3 linked regions of the Homo sapiens genome follow. The protein of the gene in region 2 interacts with the protein of the main gene of each other region in a biochemical or structural test. Each region holds a gene or a part of one and is shown on either strand. Other genes may lie near its edges.

What was found.
Region 1: the proteins of SYNJ1 (region 2) and AP2A1 form a complex in vitro, tested with the Homo sapiens proteins (one study listed by BioGRID).
Region 3: the proteins of SYNJ1 (region 2) and PACSIN1 form a complex in vitro, tested with the Homo sapiens proteins (one study listed by BioGRID).

Annotation. Positions count from the first base shown.
Region 1 is NC_000019.10:49,798,001-49,805,000, reverse strand, and holds part of AP2A1 (AP-2 complex subunit alpha-1), read right to left. Parts: intron 6,200-7,000; coding exon 6,049-6,199; intron 5,675-6,048; coding exon 5,506-5,674; intron 5,397-5,505; exon of another isoform or gene 5,373-5,396; coding exon 5,235-5,372; exon of another isoform or gene 5,034-5,234; coding exon 4,851-5,033; intron 4,041-4,850; coding exon 3,943-4,040; intron 3,612-3,942; coding exon 3,380-3,611; intron 3,280-3,379; coding exon 3,112-3,279; intron 3,021-3,111; coding exon 2,860-3,020; intron 2,468-2,859; coding exon of another isoform or gene 2,402-2,467; intron 2,053-2,401; coding exon 1,996-2,052; intron 1,895-1,995; coding exon 1,812-1,894; intron 1,715-1,811; coding exon 1,625-1,714; intron 1-1,624.
Region 2 is NC_000021.9:32,724,646-32,733,070, forward strand, and holds the start of SYNJ1 (synaptojanin-1), read right to left. Parts: upstream 3,301-8,425; intron 3,295-3,300; exon of another isoform or gene 3,192-3,294; intron 2,273-3,191; coding exon of another isoform or gene 2,251-2,272; coding exon 2,127-2,250; intron 1-2,126. UniProt on the Homo sapiens protein: Phosphatase that acts on various phosphoinositides, including phosphatidylinositol 4-phosphate, phosphatidylinositol (4,5)-bisphosphate and phosphatidylinositol (3,4,5)-trisphosphate. Has a role in clathrin-mediated endocytosis.
Region 3 is NC_000006.12:34,469,076-34,476,075, forward strand, and holds part of PACSIN1 (protein kinase C and casein kinase substrate in neurons protein 1), read left to right. Parts: intron 1-7,000. UniProt on the Homo sapiens protein: Plays a role in the reorganization of the microtubule cytoskeleton via its interaction with MAPT; this decreases microtubule stability and inhibits MAPT-induced microtubule polymerization.

The sequences.
Region 1 (7,000 bases), on a different chromosome or scaffold from region 2:
CAGAAGTTCGAGGCTGCAGTGAGCAGTGTTCATGCCACTGCATTCCAGCTTGGGTGAGTGAGGCCCTGTCTCAACACAAGGACATGTGTAAAATGTCCTCAGGAGTTGATGAAATAATCCAGCCGGGTGTGGCGGCTCACGCCTGTAATCCAGCACTTTGGGAGGCCAAGGTGGGGAGGATCACTGAGCCCAGGAGTTTGAGACCAGCCTGGGCAACATAGCGAGGCCTCAACTCTATTTAAAAAAAGAAAAGAAAAGAATCCATCACAAGTACTTGTCTGTGTGCCCGGCACATGGTAAGTACACAAAGATGGTAGCAATTAGTGTTATCATCATCTGCATCCGTGTCAGTAGCCCACTGGGAAGGCCTGGGTCTCATGTTCTTTTGTCACTGCCTCCACTGAGCTGCCTGCACGAGCCTCTGGAAATTATGAAAGAAGGAATTTTTTTTTTTTTTTTTCCTGAGACGGAGTCTCGCTGTCGCCCAGGCTGGAGTGCAGCGGCGCAATCTCGGCTTACTGCAACTTCGCCTCCTGGGTTCACGCCACTCTCCTGCCTCAGCCTCCCGAGTAGCTGGGACTACAGGCGCCCACCACCACGCCCGGCTAATTTTTTGTATTTTTAGTAGAGAAGGGGTTTCACCATGTTAGCCAGAATGGTCTCGATCTCCTGACCTCGTGATCCAACCACCTTGGCCACTCAAAGTGCTAGGATTACAGGCGTGAGCCACCGTGCCCGACCGAAGAAGGAATTTTTTCTTTTCTTTTTCTTTTTTTTGAGACTGTCGCCCAGACTGGAGTGTAGTGGTACAATCTCGGCTCACCACAACCACCACCTCCCAGGCTCAAGCGATTCTCCTGTCTCAGCCTCCTGAGTAGCTGGGATTACAGTCGCGTGCCACTACCACCCAGCTGATTTTTGTATTTTTAGTGGAGATGGGGTTTCACCATGTTGGCCAGGCTGGTCTTGAACTCCTGACCTCAAATGATCCACTGGCCTCAGCCTGCCAGTGCTGGGATTACAGGTGTGAGCCCCCATGCCCGGCCAGAAGGAGTTTTCAGGTCGAGCTTTTCTAATTTCATGAATGTGGCAATGGAGGCCCAGAGAACGGGCAGGGGGGACTGATACCTCCAGCCGCCCTTCCAGGGTTTTCCAGACACTCTGATCTTCACAATAACCCTATGAGGAAGAGGAGGGTCTACATACACTTCACAGCGGGGACAGGAGAGCCCAGAGAGGCAAAGTGACTCAGCCCAGATCAGGCCTGATCAGCGTCTGGACCCGCAGGCCTGGCTCCTGAGTGCAGGCGGTGCTGGCATCATGACATGGAGCCCAGTGGAGGACGATGGCAGGACACGGAAGGTGCCAGACAGGGACAAAATGAGGCCTGGAGCAGGTGGAGTTCTGGAAGTAAAGCCTCCCACACACCACTTCACTGTCATCCCCTGTCCTGGGGGAAGGAATCCCACCCCCATCTTAACAGATGCAGACACTCAATCTCAGAGAACTAATTGCGTGCCCAAGAGAGGCTGAAGAGAAGTGTGGACCTGGGTCAGCCGGCTTCCCCACGGTGAGGAAGGCCGACGTGGAGAGGCAGGAGGCTGGGCCGGGCCTGAGAGGATATGAGTCTGGAGGTCTCCCGGGTGAACCACAGTGGGTGAGAAATTCTGGAACTGCACCGAGGTCTTGTTGCCATAGAAGAGATACATGCGGCCTGCAGTAGGTGGGGGAGGCAGAGCTCCATCTGAGTCCCTCTGACCCCTTCCCCAAGGTCTCCCTCCGACCCATTCCCACAGTCCCCCGGGACACACCCAGGTTCTGTCGGAACTCTGACTTGACTCCGATCTGCAGCAGCTGGTTCTCGAACAGGACCCCGTTGTTCTTACACACAAACCTGAGGGGGCAGGGGGCGCAAGATGACGGGGGTGCCTGTCTGCACCTGGCCTGGGCTCCGCACCTGTCCCGTTCCCCTCCCCCACCACTCCCAGGACTCACTTATTCAGCAACTCATCGGCTTCCGGAATGGGAGGGCCGATGTCCTCAGGACCTGGGCTGGAGGCATGGAGCAGAGTGAGATGGGAAGGAACTTGGTGGGGAGGGGCAAAGGCCCAGAGCGATTGAGTGCGAGAACAAGCCCTAAGGACAGAACCCCAGAACCACATATCCAGACCCCTCACAGAGCCTCGAGGAACCTCGCATCCATCCAGCAGTGGCCTCCAATGGGAATAGAACCCTGGCCCGTGCCCCCGCATCGGCAGACACCAAGTTTCCCTTTCCTCCAAGTCCCTGCCTCTGCTGCTCATCAGGAACCCGTTGACGAGGGCTCCCAGTCCCCTAACTCTCCCTGGGGACACCCGAGTCCGCCCCCCCGACCGACCTCCCACCCCAGGCCACCCCTTACTCAGCAGCTGGAGCTGGGTCAGCCAGCAAAGCCATGGGGCTCTCGGGGGCAGGCGGCTCCAGCTCGCTGAGCCATCCAATCCCAGAGCAGACAAGAGAAGACAGGCGTGGCAGGCAGCCAATTCCACATAGGCAGCGAGAGGGCAGAAGAGAGACAGAGAGGGAGGGACGGAAGAGGGAAGGAGAGAAGGAGAAAAGGAAGAGCAGGCTGAGAAACGGTGACAGGAAAGGAGACAACGAAGGGTGGCCAGGGTCGGCGGAGTCCAGAGTGGCAGAGGGAGGGCGTGAGCAGGGAGGCTGGGGCAGGGGAGGCAGCAGCCAGGGCTGGCGAAGGCATCAGGATGGAGAGAGGAGCGAGTCGGGGGCGGGGGAGGGGCTCAGGGAAAACGGGGACAGAGGCCGAGAAGGGACAGCCCTGGGGGTGGCCGCGAGAAGGGGCCCGGGCCCAGGGGGTGCTACCTGAGGAAGGCCTCCTCGGGGGTGGGCCCCAGGCTGGGCTGGGCGGCCGGGCCATCGAAGACGTCCACCAGAAGGTTCCCTGCTCCTGCAGAAGCCGGGGGTGCTGCCGGGGGAGGGGCTGCCCGCAGCCCCAGGAGGTCGGCGGAGGGCGAGGGCGTCGACTGTAGGAAGCGCAGGTCACGGTGAGGACAGGCGGCGCCCGGCAGGACCCAGCCCCAGGCACCCTGGCAGGGCCCACCCCAGGGGACTCACCACAGTGCTGGGGGTGGGCTCCATGCCCCCGTTGATGTCGTTGCTGCTGGGGTCCCTCCGGCCATCGTCCAGGGCGCTGCCGGCCCCTGGCCCCTTCTTGCGTTTCAGCTTGGCCAGGATGGACGACTCGCGCTCGGGGAAGGGCGGCATCTCCTCCAGCACCGTGGCCTGGCGCGGTCGGGGTGGGGAAGGTCAGTTCGGGTCAGGAGGAGGGGAGGGCGGGAAGGGGGTGTGCAAGAGGGGTGGGGTGGGGGGACAGGGCTCTGACCAGGACGTCGGTGCTGGCCACTGAGCTGAGGGTGAGGTACTCCACGGCTCGCTGCTGCAGCTCCACGTCAGCATTGCGCAGCTGGGAGCCGGCCCGCAGGACGCCCTGGATGGTGGCCTTGGTCTCGGGGAAGAGGTTGATGAACTTGATGTAGGTGGACAGCAGCAGCGCCCGCGTGGCCACGCTGCACAGATGGAACTTGGAGTGGAGCAGGGAGAACTGCACTGGGGGGCTGTGTGCAGGAGTGGGTGTCAGCGGGGCCAGGTTCCACTGCCCTCTCCCAGAAACCCCCTCGAGAGGTGCCCCTCCCTAGGATGGACCCGTCCCAGGACCCCAAGCTGCTGGAGGGGAGTGGCCCTCCCCAGGCACCAGACAGGGGCCGCAGTCACACTCTGTCCACGATCCTGGGACTAAGCTCCTTTCTTACCCTGCTAGGTGGATTGGGGTGGAGGCCGAGAGGATGGGAGCCCATCACTGCCTGCCCTGAGACCCCTGGGGATCCCCCAAGCCCTGGACCCCTCAGAAGCATGTGTGTTCTCCCCTGCAGGCTGAGGCTCCCTCACCTGGAGCGGGGGTCCCCAGCAATCAGGTTCCCAAACTCCCCAAGGATGTAGCCGCCAACCTTCACCATGTTCTCGTGACAGGCAGGGGCCTGGAGCGCCTGAGTGGGGTGGGGAAGGGCGTGGAGAGGACAACAATGAGCGCCCTCTCCGGGATCGGTGGGTGCAGCCACCTACTGACTGGTGGAACACTGAAAGCTCTGCTGCAGGTGGGGTTATAGGTGGGAAACTGAGTCACAGAAAGGTTGAGTGACGGGCCCAAGCTCACACAGGAAGTAAAACAGGGCTGTGGGCCGGAAGCAGTGGCTCATGCCTGTAATCCTGGTACTTTGGGAGGCCGAGGCGGGCAGATTGCCTGAGCTCAGGAGTTTCAAACCAGCCTGGGTAACATGGTGAAACCCCGTCTCTACTAAAAATACAAACAAATTAGCTGGGTGTGGTGGCGCGTGCCTGTAGTACCAGCTACTGGGGAGGCTGAGGCAGGAGAATGGCTTGACGCTGGGAGGCCGAGGTTGCAGTGAGCCGAGATCGCACCACGGCACTCACTCCCCACTCCAGCCTGGGCAACAGAGTGAGACTCCGTCTCCAGAAACAAACAAACAAACAAACAAAAAACAGGACTGTGTGGGGCCCCTTTCCTGGGGCAGAGGGAAACTACCGAGATCCGGGGGCCAGGACTGCACACTGGGTGCCCCATGCCCATGCCCTGGGGACTCCTCACATCAGGCCCATGAGACCATAGCCCTGGGTCCCCTGGGTTGGCCCAGAGAGGCAGAGGCCCCATTTTGAGGTCACGGCAGTGCAGGAGAAGGAGGGTGGCTGCGGGCTGGCAGGCGCCACGGCCCCGGCCATCCTTGCTCTGCCTCTAGGTCCTGTCGTGGGGTCATAGGGTCAGGGTCAGGGATGCTGACCTCAAAGACGGTCTTGGCGGCATAGCCCTGGACGTCATCACGGTTGGTGACGATCTGTAGCACACGGTACCACACCTCCTCACTCACGTAGTCGCCCGCAATGCGGATGAGGTTGAGGATGGTGTCCACGTACCAGCTGTAGTCCACGGCGTACTTCTCGGCCAGGATGGCCACCTTCAGGACCTGCCGCCGGGGCGTGTGAGAGAGAGTGTGCCGCAGGCCATGTCGGGCTTTCACTCACCTGGATCTGGGCTCACCACTGCCCCCATCTGGAGACCCAGGAGTCCAGGCCCCAGCCCCTCCTCCCTTAGACTTAGGAATCCAGGCCCCCAGCCACCTCCTGCCTCAGACCCAAGAGTCCAGCCCGCACCCCACAGCACTCACGATCTCCTCGCGGATGGCGTAGTCTGCCGTCTCCAGGTACCGCAGCATCTCCGACACGATCTGCTTGGCATTGCTCCGGTCACACATGGCGTAGAGGAGGTCAGCCGCCCGCTGCCGCACGCTGACGTCCCGCTCCGTCTGAGGGCGGAGAGCAGAGCCCAGGTGTGTTTTAGACTCCCTGTTGGCACAGGGTTGGCCACCCAAGGGCCTCTGAGCCTCTGGTCTTTCTGAGGGGGGTGGCAGGCCCGGGGTGGGCTCCAAGGGCTCACACCTTGAGGGCATTGATGACGGTGTCAATGTGCGTCTTGACGGCTTCATGGGAGAACTCGGAGCTGGCCAGCGTGCACATGCTCTCCAGGGCCAGGTAGCGCAGGTTGGTCTCCCGGTGCTGCAGGAACTGGCCCAGCTGGTTGCAGGCCCGAACCAGGAGGTTGGGCTCACTGCCAGCAGGGGCCACAAGAGAGGGATGGTGAGAGAAACTGACAGGAGAAGGTGGAGGACTCGGGCCCCAGCTGACCCATCTCACAGCCCCCAAGGATCCAGGTCTTAACCTTGCCGGCCTTGCATCGCAGTACTGCACCTCCAGTGACCCAGACAACTGGGCCTTTGAGCCCAGAGAAAGATACCTAGCAATTCTGCCCCCAGGAAGGGCCCCAGCACCAACCTCACAGGTGACACTTCACAGCCCCATCCTCCTCCTACCCTACCTAAAAGTCAAGATTCCCTGCCCTCTGCCTAGGACTCAGGAGTCCGGGCCTCCATGCCCCTCTTTCCTGGCCCCAGGCATCAGGCCCTGATAGGCCCAGGCGGGCACCTGTCATAGTGGATGATGAGGCTGATGGTCTCGAAGAGGATGGCGTTCTTGGCGTTGGAATGCTGCACCTTCTTGGATTTGGGGGGCTCCTGGGCCTTGTTGAGCACAGTCTCCAGACATTCCACCAGCCGCCCCTTCACAGCCGCATCCTCTGGGGAAACGAAGGGGACGCCCCCGGCTGAGTGTCCTGCCCACCTGGCACACCTGCTGGGGTGGTGGCCATGCCCCAGCTCCTGTCTTCCAAAGGAGGAGCTCGGGGTGCCTCTGACACTCGAGAATTCTGCAGCTCAGGGCCAGGGTCTCTGCTCCCTCAACCTCTTCCCAGCCCAGCAGAGATGGTGAGACAAGGCACCTCTGGAGACACAAGATCTATCCCCAGACCTGGGCTCTCCTCCTGCTCTGACCCTCTCGGGCAAGAGGTGGCACCATGTGAGCCTCAGTTTCCTCATCTGCAGCTCTGAGGCTCCTTAGGTTTCTCACAGAGCAAAGGAAGCTCCAGGAACCTTCCCCAGAGGTGCCCCCAAACCCAGGCCTTCCCAAGGACTGGTGTGAGTGCTGAGCAGCCCCTGACAAAAATGCACAAGCCACCCACCCAAGTGTCCATTCAGCAAGAGGCCACTGCAGGCACACTCGGTGCCATCCTCCTGGCCTAGAGGCTGGGAGGCCAAAGGAGACAAGGCTCAACCAGGTGCCCCCTCACCCCCCAGAGCTCTCCACCACTGACAGATGCCAGCCAGCAGCTCACAGGAGCACCAATCACCACGTTTCCTAGAATGTGACGTGTTTTCAAGTGTATGCAAGAGCTGTCAAGCGTTCCAGCAAAAAATGGTTCCGCAGATTTTTCTGCAGAATTTTCCGCAGGAAAATTCACCAGATAGAGGAACAAGCTAAAATACACCACAAGGCAGCAATGAGCCCAGTCGCCACCATGGGACACACAGCAATGGCATCT
Region 2 (8,425 bases):
GCATTTTTAAAGTGTGAAGATTTTAAGTGAACACTGTACAGCACAATACAAACCTTGGTATCACTCCAAAATGAAGGCCAAATTAATTTTAAAAGTCAAATGACTTAAGAAGGTTTGTTAGCTCTTAAATATTAATATGTTAAGTATTACTGTAAAGCTTATAGTAGGAAAGATAATGACATTCCAAGAGATTAGACATCCATTTATGTTAGCTTTACAGAAAGAGTCAATATTCCAACATTTTTTTTCTGAATTGCTCACATAGTCTAAATCTAATGAAAATAGAATAGCTTAGACAATATTTTAATATTCTTTCTCCTTAGAATGCACATTAATGCCAAAATAAATGTTTTAGGGCCTTTTGGTAAAAACAAACCATTATTTGGCATAAAAGACGGCTGCTGGAGGTTTTGGAAATATTATTATTCTTAGGTTTCCTAACCTTGGAGTAAAGTGTAGCAATAATTCTAAAAACTATAAGTAATACACAGTTTGTAGCTGAACATTTGACTTGCTATTATGAGTAATCATAATTAAAGAAACATTTAGAATTTATACAAGATTAGTAAGTCAGGTAACGTCACCAAAAAACACAAGCAGCTGAAAAATGCTTCCCATACAAAAACAAACATTCGCCCCACCCAACCCCCACAATATTTTAATTCAGAATTCATCAGTATAAGAATTCCACTTGTAGTAAAAAATATATGCAATGGAAATTAATACTGTACCAAGGTATAGTTTAAATACAAAAAACAACTTGAAGCAATTAAGTCCATACTGATTGAGTATAGCCAATATTATTTATACTTATTTCTTGGAAGACCTAGAGCCCCTTCTCCTTCATTCAAAAAATATATGTACCAAATATATATTTCTTATATACTGTTCTTTGCTTAAGACTTTTCATTATGTCACTATCTTTTTCCCCATCAAGATGCAATTATACTATTTAGTCAAGTTAACACTTTAACTGACATTAATATTCTACATGCAAAGAGTGAGGTCTTATGCTCTTCATTTATTGAGGCTGGAGAAAGCTTAGTAGTTTAAGATATTTAAGGGCTTATATTTGTAAGTATGCCTTTCAAACACTATTTTTAATTTATAAAGATATAATCAGTAACTAAACTAATCCCAACACTAGGATTATTTGCCTAAATCATATATATGTGTATATATAATCATATACTTTTTTTTCTTTTTAATTTTTGAAACAGGGTCTCACTGTGTTGCCCAAGCTGGAGCGCAGTGGCGAGATCAAGGCTCACTGCAGTCTCGACCTTCCAGACTCAATCAATCCGCCCACCTCAGCCTCCCAAGTAGCGGGGACTAAAGGGCACACGACGGAGCCGAACTACTTTTTGTATTTTTTGTACAGAAAGGGTTTCACCACGCTGCCCAGACTGGTCTCAAACTCCCCGCCTCAAGCGATCAGCCCCCCTTGGCCTCCCAAAGTGCTGGGACTACAGGCGTGAGCCCCCACACCTGGCATATCTTACATTAAGAAAGACCCAGTATCCAAATTAATTTTAATTTCATCCATCTGCCCCTAAAATAACTCAAACATTACTAATCTATTTTTCTTGTGGTACAATAGTCCTTTTCTTTAAATTAGACTATCAAAATACTTTTAAAAATAATACAAAATCAATCATGTATCTCACATGAAAATCTAGAGGTTGTTTACAATTCCCTTAATGAAAACACAACGGCCATAACAGAAATACTCCAACAATATTGGATAATATTAGATAATACCTACTACTATAACTGACCTACCAGTAAATATGTCAAGCAAGACACTGTATGGGTTTATGTGATACATGATACAAACTGAAACAATATTTCTTTGGAAAAAACATTTACTTTTAGAAGCAGCAGCAGAACCCAAGAAAGCAAAATCCTGCAACCAAAACCTGCATCTCCCTGCACCCCCTCAACAAAAACCTGTTAACAAAAAGTTTGCAGGAAAATAAGTTTGATTAAAAGGAAATACAAGCATAATCTGCTAGAGGAAATACAGTGAAAGGGTTGTCGGGCTCTTTTCTAAAAAATGGTTGCATCTGAATTGTTTCAAATCAAAACAGAGACCATGACAAATTGGGCTCTAACAGATGACTTACAGAGCACAGCGACAGCCCCAGACTCGAACATGAGACATTCTTCCTTATGCCTAGTTTCCACTATGAGGCTGAAAGGTGGGGGATCCAATTTGTGATAGATCCGGAATCCTTTACTGAACGCCATTCTCCTTTCTTCGGAGGCAGCCCTGCGAAAACCAAGCAAAGCAAAGCAAATGAAGCTGATGTTTCCTTCTGCAGCAAGGACTGCAAAGCATCCAAAAGTCCCTCCCCGCCAGGTTTTGATGGGGGGTTGGGGTGGGAAAAAACAGACAGCTCTGGGAGAAAATGGCTTTTTCCAAAAGATAAGTCGTCACTTAATTTTACCAAAAAGCAAGAGGAAAAGCTATCAATTCTCATACCAAGGCAAGACAAGGTTTTAGCACTGTAAGTCAATCAACGGTCTGGTTGAGTTTCCCGTTTAATTTATGCTTACTGAAAGGAAAAATTTTGAGCGTATTTCGTCCGGAGCTGTTTATCAGCTTCCTGCTTCAAGATCTGTCACTACGTTGAAAGGGAACCTATTTGGAAACTTCAAGCAGTTCCTTCGAGGTGAAAGGAGCGGAGGTGGGAGGGAAGGGTGACAAGGCTGGTTCAAAGCTCCTTAGGGGGCAGGAGAAGGAAAAGGATTATCCCACGCGACAGGCTCTCCCGGGGGTGGCGATGAAGGGCAAGGGAAAAGGCACAGGTTACCGCCGCCTCTCCTGCCCCGGGCTACCGCCGGCTGGGGGGACGGCAGGCGGGGCCGATAAATACGAATGGCCACCCGGGAAGAGTCACGACTCGGGGCACCGACCCGACTGGGGCTCCTCGGGGGTCCCGGGCAGTCGACTGCCCGGGAAAGCGGCTCCTTCTCGGAGAGACGGAAGAGCCGAGCAGCCCAAACCCTCCATTTATGCGCCAGAAGAGATACCCCGGCGCCCAGGCGGATTCGGTTCGTTCCCGCGGGCGGGCTGACAGCCGCTGTCACCACAGCCCCCAGCCTGACGCGGCACCCCGCACAACCAGTGGTCTGCTCACAACCCCGCCCGTCCTCCCGCACCCCGGCTGCTCGCGGTCGCCCCTCACCGCTCCCGCTGACGCTGCGGAGGCAGAGACTGGTCTTGGAGGCGTCCGCCCGCCCGGCTGCCCGTGGGTCTGGCCGCAGCAGCTCCCCGCCCCCCGCCGGCTTGCTCACCTCTTCCTCCGGCTCCTCCTCCTCCTTCTCCCGCAGCCGCCGCCACAGCCGCCGGGAGCGTCACTTCCGCTCCAGCAGGCCCATCTCTTCCGCATTGCGCCGCGGCCGGGGGCGGAAGATCCGCCCCGCGCGAGGGAAGGGGCGGGGCATCAGGAGGGAGACCACGCCCACTCTGCGCCGACCGGCTGGGCCTGGCACCCGCGGGCGGCCCCAGCCTCAGTCTCCAGCTACCTTTGCCTCCTGCGGCCGCCCCCAGGCAGAGCTGCGATCCCACCGCCGGGGGTGCAGGGAGAGGGAAGATCTGGCCTCCTTGGTCCTTTTGCGTGGGCTCTTCAGAGCGTGAGCGCCGGGGAGGGACTCCGGAGAAAAGCTTGGGGGGCTGCGTATTGCTGCTCCCCAAGCTGGGCGTCAGGACCAACCCCGCCGCCCCCACGGGCCTGACGGGAGAGGAGGAAGGGCTCGGGACGGTCGGCTCGCCGAGCCAACCAGGTGGCGCCTGAAGAGCTGTCCATGGTGTCGACAGCCCAGCAAACGGCACCGAGTTCCTAGTCTGAGTGTCTGGATAGGTAGCAGAAGAAAAACTAATGCCTGCTCTGGGACAGTTCTGTTCGGTGCCTTTTCTTGTGTGTTCTGGAGCTCACAGGGTTCTATCGAAGAGTGCTTAGGTGTATACGATGGAGAGTGGGACGTCACAAACCAGGATCTCAAGGCTGAGTCCAACAAAACATGGCCGTAGGGAGGCCACGACAGCTGTGGTTGTCACCGACGGATGAATAGCTTTTGCCAACCGTGGAATTTAGTAACTAAAGGCACCTAACCCTTTTATCTCATCCTCATTTTTCAACAAATGGTGCTTCCTGGCTAATATCAGCGTGTCCCATAGATTTCTGCTTCCATTGAATAGACCTAATAAGAAAGAGAATGAAGTCAAAGCCAACAGGGCAGAAAGAAATTGAAAACCTGAAGAACCCAGCACTCAAACTGTCTCCACTTGCGTTTGCTTTTTCTTTACCTCTTCTCCTTCTGGTTTTCAACAGCCAAAGCAGGATTTAAATTTGGTTATGTTGCAAAAATCATTTCCCTCTTCAGGCCCTGTCATGTGACTTGATTTTTTCGTCCATTTTAGAGAAGCTGTACCCACCCTGGTTTCAGGACACGGAACTAAATTTATTAGAAAAGAAGCCACTTCAAGTCATGAAGGAGAAACACAAAGATTCTTGGATTTAGTTCTAAGAACTAGAGGGGATTTCTATGTCAGTACTGTCTCAGAAAAAACTGTTGATATCAAATGTGTTGCTTGAGAAGTACCTTTTTTTTTTTGAGACGGAGTCTCGCTCTGTCCGCCCAGGCTAGAGTGCAGTGGCGCGATCTCGGCTCACTGCAAGCTCCGCCTCCCGGGTTCACGCCGTTCTCCTGCCTCAGCCTCCCGAGTAGCTGGGATTACAGGTGCCCACCACCACGCCCGGCTAATTTTTGTATTTTTAGTAGAGACAGGGTTTCACCGTGTTAGCCAGGATGGTCTCGATCTCCTGACCTCGTGATCCACCCGCCTCGGCCTCCCAAAGTGCTGGGATAACAGGCGTGAGCCATCGCGCCCGGCCGAGAGGTACCTTTTATGACAACTGAAATCATTCAGTTTCAAGAGGAGTTGGGTACTGAAACCAAACTTGCTTACTCCAAAGCCCAAAATCCTTTCCACCATGCCTGTGTGTCTGTAAGGCTACACTAGAAATGCTTCCTTTCTTATAGTGGGAAGCATGGGTACTAAGCTCTTTTACGAACAAGTGTTCTGCATATTCCTGGTTCCTTTTTATTTTGGACTGAGGAGATTTAGGTCAAAATTTCTGGGTTCTGGGTTGGAATTCCAGCTTCTTTCTTCAAATTAAACTGGGGGGTAGCAAGACTTATTCCTAGATTTGTTAGAAGGCCACAGCTTTTCCACATCTCATTTTAGTCATGAAAAAGACACATGCCCAGAGTTTGAAAAACATAAAGGCAATTTGACTAGTGGCTTGATTGGTTCTATCTTCTTTTTCTTGTCCCTCTTTCCTATTTATACTTCTACTTTTGTTACAGCATTTGACAATAGTTGGAAAAATTTTCACTGACCTTGAAATGTCTTTGGGATAGGGTGACTTAAAATATAGGTTAAGTGGCATACACAAACTTCTTAGTGAGATCCTAAGGGCCTACAGAGACAGGCTGACACCAACTCAACCCTTGAAACTGTGCAATGAAGAGCCTGTGGGAGGCTAAAAAACGCTACTTCAAAAAGAGATCCTTGTCTGTGAATGTTAATTTAGGTTTACAGATTTGATTAAGGGTCTTGAGATTATTTTCAATTATCCAGGTGGGCCCTAGAGCCCTAGATGCAATCATAAGTGTCCTTATAACAGGGAGGCAGAGGAAAATTAAACACGCACACAGGAGAGAGAGAGAGAGAAAAAAAAGTGATGTGAAGACAGCAGCAGAGATTGGAGCGATGTGGCCATAGCCAAGCTATGTCAGCAGCCATCAGAAGTTGGAAGAGGCAAGGAAGGATTTGAGCCTAGAGCCTTTGGAAGGAGCATGGCCCTGTTGGTTCTGGCCTCCAGAACTGCAAGAAAATACATTTTTGTTGTTTTAAACCACCCAGTTCATGGTAATTTGTAACACCAGCTACAAGAAATTAACACAAGGCTGATGTGACTTTCCATCAGGAGAGAGACAGCCCCAGGTAGGTGTTTCAGATATCACATCCAATAGAACAAATTAAAGACAAACACCCTAAATTCTAGATGTTGATTTGTGAGCAAGTTATTTCTCCTATGGGCAACTCTAGTTGAAATATGCAATTCATTATGTTGAAACATGGAATTGTTATTTTCATAGGTTAAAAAAAAATCACATAGTGGCAATATAGTAGTAGTGCTCGTTTTTTGTTTTTTGTTTTTTTGTCAAAAATGCTAGACAACATGGAAGATCAGGGAAATATTAACAGTCTGATTCAGTAACCTTTAACAGCTTCTTTTCAGGTTACACAGGCTAAGCTAACTTTTATATCAGGATCAGGATCTGCAGAGTTATTAGTATAGTGCTCTGCAGATCCTGGTCCTAGTATAGCAGGATCTGCAGACCCTAGTTGTACCTGGCCATGTTCCCCACCAATGACTGAGAAAGAAATGGCTCGAACAGAAAACAGTGGTCTTGAAAGGCAACGCAACAGTAGGTTACAAATAGCATTAGCTTTTTCTTTAAAGAAATTCATTGTAACCAGTGAAGGATAAGATTTTAAATTAGAAAAATGGAAATCCTATGAATAAAAAACTAGTAAGCTTGAGAGCAGAATCACTGTGGAAAAAAAACAGATTGAAAAATAACTTGCAGGTATCATAGACAGGAAATTGCCACTAGAGAAAACAGGAAACTTGTGATAGATAAAAATGAAGTATTTTCATTTGGAACAAGAGACCAACTGAAGAGAGATCAAGTGAAGGGGGTTTATTTTAATGAAACACAAAGATTCTTGTGGAAATCAAAGTGCCGGAGCCAGAAACAGGGCTCAACCTTCAAGATTAGAGCTGTATTCAAGTTGTTCAAGTTGGCTCTCGGTCCCAAAGCAACAGCAATGTCACTAAGGTTACAAGTAAAAGGTAAGCTTTCATGATCAAAATGTTTTTGCAAAGTAGCTTAAAATGGTTTCTGCAGTGTTTTGTCAAAACTTTTCTCATACATTTTCCTAAAGATATTTAGCAAGAGCCTAAGAAGTCATGTGCTAGGGATTTTCATTGTACTGAATGATTGTATCCTTTAAGCCGCTGCTGGAGTTAGGACTGACAGGAACGCAGTACAAATTACTGGGGGCTAGAGTCCCAAAGCAGGCCAGGGACCAGTCTACATTGCATGTCGATACCAATCCCATATAACAATATTCAGCCTGTGTTTGGGCAGTCTGAGGCAGCTTTTAGCAGCTGTGAACCCAGTATCCATGGACAGTTTCATTTCTGGAGGGCAGTCTTCAAAACGTTTATGAAAGTACACCTCCCATTCAGATATGTTTTTTTCTTCCTACATGTAGTGCTAGTGTTTTTCTCATTTTCATTTACTTGAAACAACAGATCAAATGTTTTGTCATAATCAGTGAATGGCAAGACTCCCTTTATTACATGGGTATTACCATGTTAGAGATAAGAAGAGCTCTTGTAACCATTAACAACCACTACAATGTAGCAACTTACAGTTTCCTATTTTATATTGCAGCTCTGTAACATTTGACTACTTTTGTAAGAGTTTCATGATTTCAAGGATGATTATTAGCATTTTCAATTTTTTGGCCAATTCTGGGTGCTGGTAATGTTACCACTGCAGGCAACTATGGCTCTACTCAACTGAAGACCTCTTATAGGCAATGTGGACCATACCTGCTTTCCTGAGAGATCAGCAAATTGGGTTTGGTCATCAGGAAATTCTGTCTCTCAGATCTCATACTAGCAAGGAGACCCCTGGTTGTACCTGTCAGAGCTGCCAGTTGGCCCTGCTGAAACTTTAGAACTGCACCAATGTCTAAGACTTTCATCCTCCTTCCTTCACACAGGTGAGACCTGCCTGCCTCATTGTCTGACAGCTTTCCCAGCCTCCTCCAGGCTCCCCTCCGTTTTCTCTTATACGCATTCCCCCAATAAACTTCCTGTACATTTAATACCATCTCAGTGTCTGCTCCCAGGAGGACCCTAACTGACACACTGGGGCATTTAGCCTCCAATTCCTTTTCTCCCTTGGCTGAGATCTGTTCCAGGAAGTATCTCCAGGACACTCCAGCCTGTTGCACAGGCCAAAGAAAAGCCCTCAGGCAGAGGAGCAAATACTTGCAAGAGGACACCAGTGGCAAGAACAGGGACATGGTGAGACTTCGACATCATTGGCTACAGTAGTACTAGTCACTCTTGACTGTGGTTTATGTTGTTTCAATAAAGTAGCTTTCCTTCTCAAAAACATTTGTCACCTATTTTGGAGTTAATTCAGAGGATTGCTCCAAAAGAAAAAACTGAAAAGCAAAACCAGCTTTATTAAAATGTAACCCTCTGGATTTATCTTTTGATAATTCCTTTCATAAGAAATAATGTCCTTAAGCTATTTCAGGAATAAA
Region 3 (7,000 bases), on a different chromosome or scaffold from region 2:
GAAGGACAGAAGGGACAGGAGAGGACATGAGGGGTGGGGGCATTCACTGATTTGGGGGGCCCTCCCTGGGGAACCAGGTGGAGGGGTTGGGGGACGAGTGGGTATACCAGATAAGAAGGATGCTGCTTGGTTTGGTTTTACATTTTTCTTAAAGAAAAATAGCTTTTATTATTTTTTCTTATTACCAAAGTAATATAGGTTTGCTGTGGGCAATTTAGAATGTACTAGAAAGCCGAATGAAGGAAGCCCATTAGCCACATCAGACCCACCCACCATGGGCACTTCGTAACTGATTTCCAGCCAGGGGCAGGATGGACCGGAGGGGAGGTCTGGGCTGGGGACTTGGCGGGCAGGTCAGGGTCCCAGGAAGTAGCCGTGAGGATTGGCAGGCAGGTAGAGGAGGGGTCCCGGAGCTTCACTGTGGAAAGCAGGGAAGGAAGTGGGATTGGATGAAGGGGAAGTGGACTCTGATGCAGCCCAACAGGCAACAGGGTGCCCTGGGGCTAGAGTGGCCTTTCAGGTCATGTCCATTTGCCTGTGAGAGTCAGGCCCTAGACCCCAGCATCCTGCGCCCATCAGGCACAGGGTTTGGGTGTGCCTTCCTGCAGGTGGCTCTGTGGTAGCAGCAGTCCCTGAAGCATCTGCCCACTGAGGTCGCCTGCTGACAGCACCCACCCCCTGGGGCAACAGGTAGTGTTCACCACCAGGAAAGATGGGTTGGGAGGAACCCAGAGGTGGGCTGAAGGGACAAGATCAACCGGAGCCTGGCCTCAGCTGGCTCTGGGGAGACAGGACCTCTAATGCCAGGGAAGTTGCTGGTGCCGTTTCCAGAAAAGGAGCGTGTCTGTGGGGAGCAATTTAGAATGTACTGGAAAGCCAAATGAAGAAAACCTATTAGCCACTTCAGACCCACCTGCTGGGGACACTTTGTGGCTGGTTTCCAGCCAGGGGCAGGGTGGCCTGGAGGGGAGGGCTGGGCTGGAGACTGGGGTCGGGGGCTCCCCTCCACCCTCCCCTGGGTGCTGTCTCTGAAGACCTCAACCTTGGGTGTGAGGGGCTGCAGGATACCTGAAAACTGGGAGGGCAGGGGAGGCCTTGGCTATTATTATTATTATTATTATTTTTGAGACGGAGTCTCACTCTGTTACCCAGGCTGGAGTGCAGTGGCGCGATCTTGGCTCATTGCAACCTCCACCTCCGGGTTCAAGCAATTCTCTGCCTCAGCCTCCTGAGTAGCTGGGATTACAGGCGCCCACCACCACGCCCGGCTAATTTTTGTATTTTTAGTAAAGACAGGGTTTCACTATCTTGGCCAGGCTGGTCTTGAACTCCTGACCTCGTGATCCACCCGCCTCGGCCTCCCAAAGTGCTGGGATTACAGGTGTGAGCCACCGCACCTGGCCTACCTTGGCTATTATTTTAAAATCACTCGATATTGTTATAATTATTTTCTTTTTAGAGGCAGGGTCTTGCTCTGTCACCCAGGCTGGAGTGAGTGACACCATCATAGCTCACTGCAGCCTCGACCTCCCGGGCCCAAGGGATCCTCCCATTCAGCCTCCTGAGTAGCTGAGTGCTACCATGCCTGGCTAATTTTTCAATTTTATTGTAGAGATGGGGTCTTACTGTGTTGCCCAGGCTAAAAATAACTTGATATTAAAATGCTGGGTAGGGGCTAGGGTAGTCTTTCTATATAAAATGCAGCATACTCAGGTAATTTTAAATTTCAGAAAAACAACAAATGTGTTTTTGTTGTTTTTTAGTCTAAGTATGTCCCAAACATTGCATAGGACATATTTTTAATAAAAAACTGTATTTGTCATTTATCTGAAATTCAGATTTAACTAGGTGTCCTGAATTTTTATTTTATTTTATTTATTTATTTTTGAGATGGAGTTTTGCTCTTGTCGCCCAGGCTTGAGTGCAAGGCTGCGATCTAGGCTCACTGCAACCTCCGCCTCCCAGGTTCAAGTGATTCTCCTGCCTCAGCCTCCTGAGTAGCTGAGATTACAGGTGCCGGCCACCACACCCAGCTAATTTTTCTGTATTTTTAGTAGAGATGGGGTTTCGCCATGTTGGCCAGGCTGGTCTCAAACTCCTGACCTCAAGTGATCTGCCCGCCTCAGCCTCCCAAAGTGCTGGGATTACAGGCATGAGCCACCGCGCCTGGCCCTGAATTTTTATTGACTAAATGTGGCCACTGTAGGCTGGGGTAGGGAGGAGTGGAGAGAGAGGGTGAGAATTTTCTGTTCTTGAGTGTGGGGGAAGAATCAATAGATACTTGTTTGAAGTTGACAGTTTTAAAACATTAACACATCCATTTTTAGAAACAGGTGAGATGTTCCAAATTTCCCATCTGTTAACTTTCTATACTGGCTAGAGAGTAGTCCCTTATTTGTGGATTTTGGCTCCTTAGTGCTGCTGAGAAATAATAAAACAATAGTTTTCTCATTTATGCAGGTGGGACAAAGGGAGATGTGGTGATCAAGGGTGGAATCACTAAATAGGGGTAATCCATTTGAGAAATAAAAGTCCTCCTAAGAAAGCTCTCATTTGGCGGAGGGCGTGGGAAACTAGAACTCTCACGTCAGTCGGGGAGCATACGTTAGCACTGTGTTTTTGGCAACAGTGGTCACAGTTTTGACTTGGCAATTCCACTTTTTGGGACTTATTCCACAGGTACACTCTGAGCAGGGTGCAAAGATTAGCTGGGCAGAGACAGTCAGTGTAGCAAAGCTAGATGTCTGTCAGGAGGACCAGTGACAAAGTCAAGACCTCTTTGTACGCTGTGATTTCGGGCAGTTGTTCGTTCTGGGATTTAATCAATGGATCTCTGAATGTCGCTGCCTGCCAGGCACCACTTTAGGTGCTTGGGGACACTGAGACAAGATGGGGCGGAGCTTATTACCAGTGTGGAAAGATGGTCATCACGTACTGATAAGTTAAAGCAAGTGGCTTTGTAGAACAATGTGTGTAGTCAAGGTCAGGAGTTCGAGACCAACCTGGCCAATATGGTGAAACCCCTGTCTCTACTAAAAATACAAAAATTACCTGGGTGTGGTGAAGGACGCCTGTAGTCCCAGCTACTCAGGAGGCTGAGGCAGGAGAATCGCTTGAGCCCAGGAGGCGGAGGTTGAAGTGAGCCGAGATCGGGCCACTGCACTCCAGCCTGGGAGACAGAGCCAGACTCTGTCTCAAAAAAAAAAAAAAAAAAAAAAAGAACAATGTGTGTAGTATGATACAATTTTTAAAGTACATGTACATATGTTCTTCTCTGTTCATATTTACATAACAATGTGTAGAAGGCTGCATACCTGATTGTGATTAGAGCTTGCCTCTGGGCTGAGGCCTATCGCAGGGATCTGGAGGGAGAATGCGTCCTCTTTATTTCAGCCATTCTGTGCTGTTTGCATTTTATAAACAAATATCATTACTCATGAAGAAAACAATTAAAACTGCACTTGATGATACTGGGAATTTTTTTCTTAGAAACCTAAAAAAATGAGCACGTAAACTCCATTCCCCTTAATCTGATGGCATGTGAGTCACATGCTGCCACGTGTGTTTGGAGAGTTTTTATCTGTGGTTGGTTCCTAACTGGTCCCCTCATGGGCTTATATTCCCTCTCCCTCCTCCCAGGCCTGTGGTGCCTGAAACCTGGCGGGATGGGAAAGGGGGTAAGGTAAGGTAACATCTGGGTATCAGGAGGGCTGTAGAAGGAGTATGGCAGAAGTGGGGTATCTGGCAAAGTGGTGGTTGTGTAGCACTGGGGAGTCTTGTAGGGGCACAAAGGAGGGGCCGGGGATCCCTGACATGTGCCAGGCGCTCTTTTGTTTATCCATATTTATAACTCATTTAGTCCTCTTAGTAAGCTCATGGGGTTATCCCCATTTTACAGATGGGGCAACTGAAGTTAAGTGACTTGCCTGAGGTCACACAGTAAGTGGCTGAGCCAGATTCACAGCCATGCAGTCTGGCTCCAGAAGCTGTGCTTGTGAGCCTCTCTGCCTCAGCACCTGTCGTCGAGGAATGGGGATAATCTCTTGTCTCAGAGACTGGAGGCAGGTGTGTTCTGGAAGACTGAAGGAGGGTTGTCTTCTGCAGAAGGCAGACCTGGAAGGAAAGGCTGGTCAGATCCAGAGACGGGGCGGGGGGCGGGGGGGTACATTCCAGGCAGAGTGACAGCAGGGACAAAGATGCAAAGGCTGGAATGTGAGTGGTGGTCTCAGGGGCTGGGGAGGAAATCAGCATAGGAACACGAGAGAGGACATGGGTCGTGAGGCTGGTGGGGCAGCCAGCTTGGATTGCTGCTGCAGGGCACTTTAAATGATCAGCCTCATTGGACCTTGTGGGACAGGTGGCCCAGGGCTGCTTCTCCTTGCAGGGCCTGGCAAAGACCCTGCATCCCTTAGCCCCACTCTGCCTAATCTGGGCCTTCCCTGAGGTCACACATTTCATCACTGGGTTCCCGGGGTCTAGCCTTGACCAGCCACTGAGGACAAGAGGGGCAGCCGAGGCAGGGCTGGAGGGCTGGGGGTTGGGGGTCCAGGCTGAGGTCCTGGCCCTGACACTGACTCACTGAGGGGCCTAGGGCCACTCAACCCCCTCCCTTGGATTCTGTTTCCTCTTCTGTCTTTTATTTGCAAACTTTTTATTGTGAAATATTATAAGCATTTACAGAAGTAGAGAAAATGTTATATAACAGTCATATACTCATGGCTTAGCATCAACAGATACCAACACATGTCCAATCTCATCTCAATCAAGATATTTCTCTAAAAGATAAGGACTTTTTCTAACACAATCACAATACCATTATTATACCTAAGAAGTATTAATTCCTTTATATAGTCAAATATTCACTTAGTATTCACATTCCCTGTTGTCTCAGACATGTCTTTTTGTTTTTTAAATTGTTTAAATCAAGTTCCAGGTAAAGTTCACACGTTATGATTGGTTGATATGTCTTAGTCTCTTTCAATCCACAGTTCTCCTCTCCATCTTTTCTTATTCTTTTGCAGTTTATCTATGGGAGGAAGCAGGTGGTTTGTCCTGCTGTGTTTCCTGCAGACTGGATTTTGTTGATTGCATCCCTGTGGTGTTATTTAGTATGTTCTTCTGTCCTCTCTGTAAATTGGGAGTTGCATTTGTCTGTCCCTGACACCTCATTTAGTCATCAACAAGTCCTTCAATTCTACATTCAAAACACCCAGAATCCACCCACTTCTTGTCACCTCCATTGCTGCCTTCCCTTCTGAGCCTCCACTATCCTCTCCTAGATCTTTGCAGCAGCCTCTACCTGGTCTTCCTGCCCCGTCCTTGCCTCACCAGCCAAAGGTCCTTTAAAACTTAAATCAGATCACATCCTTCCTCTGCTAAAGCTCTTCAATGACTCCCCTCCCATTCAGAATAAAGCCCAGAATCCTATAACAGGCTAGATGCAGTGGCTCACACCTGTAATCCCAGCACTTTGGGAGGCCGAGGCAGGTGGATCACCTGAGGTCAGGGGTTTCAGACCAGCCTGGCCAACATGGTGAAACCCCATCTGTACTAAAATTACAAAAATTAGCCAGGTGTGATGGCACACACCTGTAGTCCCAGCTACTCAGGAGCCTGAGGCAGGAGAATCCCTCAAACCTGGGAGGCAGAGGTTGCAGTGAGCTGAGATCATACCACTGCATCCAGCCTGGGTGACAGAGCAAGACTCTGTCTCAGAAAAAAAAAAAAAAAAAAAAAGCCCTATAATTGCCTGCAAGACCCCATGTGATCCGGCTGCCCAATACCTCAGACCTTCTCTCATACATCCTAGCCTCACTGATCCCCAGGTCATTTCTTGGACCCATCAAACACCCTGCCCCAGGGCCTTTGCACTCCTATTCCCTATGCCTGGAATTCTCTTCCCCAAAGGCCTACATGGCTCATGATGTTCACATCTCCACCCACATCACCCCCTCAGAGAGGCCTCCCAGACCACCTTATCAAAAACAGCCCTCGTTGTCCCCCATCTCCTGATTCTACTTTATCATCTTCATAGCACTTATCCCTGACATTATGCTCTTGTTGGTTTCTTGTCTGTCCCCCTTACCTGCCCAAGCATTCCATGAAGGCAGGGTTTGGGTGGGGGCAGAGCAGCATGACTGGGCTTCCCCTACCCCTCACCCCTGCCCACAGAGCTGACCGCCTCCTCCTCTCACATTGCTAGCTCCTCTACTTTCAATGTTTCCTAAAATTAAAAAAAAAATTAAAAAAACACATATTTGTGCCTAGTGTGTCATTGTTTACAAAATACTTCCTGTCTCAAGTCTGGTCTTCTAGAAGCAGAGCTGAGACAAGGATTCCCGGGCAAATGATTTATTGCAGGCATGCTCATATTAGAGCGGGAAAAGATTTGCTTACAGCTAGGATCCCACGGAGAGCTCTAGATTATGAACAGCCAGTCTCCCAGGGTTACCTTCCTCCAGACAAGGGGCCAGGCCTTTGTAGCCCCTTAGCTGGTGGTCATTGTCTGCAAGCTGCTCCCGGGGAAGGGCCTAGCCTCCCCCTGCATCTCCAGATGAGGCAGCTCCTGTAAGCCAAGGGCAGCTCTCAGGGGAAGGGGGCAGCTGTGAGCTGCTAGCAGCCAGCACCCACAGCTGCTGAGAGATGGGTACCCCACCTGATAGAAGGACACTGGCAGTACCCCCTCTACTTCCATATCCATTTCTGCTTTGAGCCTTGCCACAAGCCTGTGGGGATGGTATTTATTAATGATAATTATTCCCATTTCCTAGAGGAGGAAGCTGAGGTTCTTAGGGCTGAAATGACTTGCTTGAGGTTGCACAGCCAGGAAGGGGTTAGATTTAAGCTCAAATTCTTACTCAGGATCCTCTGATTAGCGGACAAATCGTCTTAGTGGCTGCTGGTTTGTAGTTTTACTCTCAAGCATTCATCCTTTTGAATGTTAAATGAATATGTATTGCGTGTGGTGTGCTGTGTGCTGAACTAGGCACCAGGCCATTCA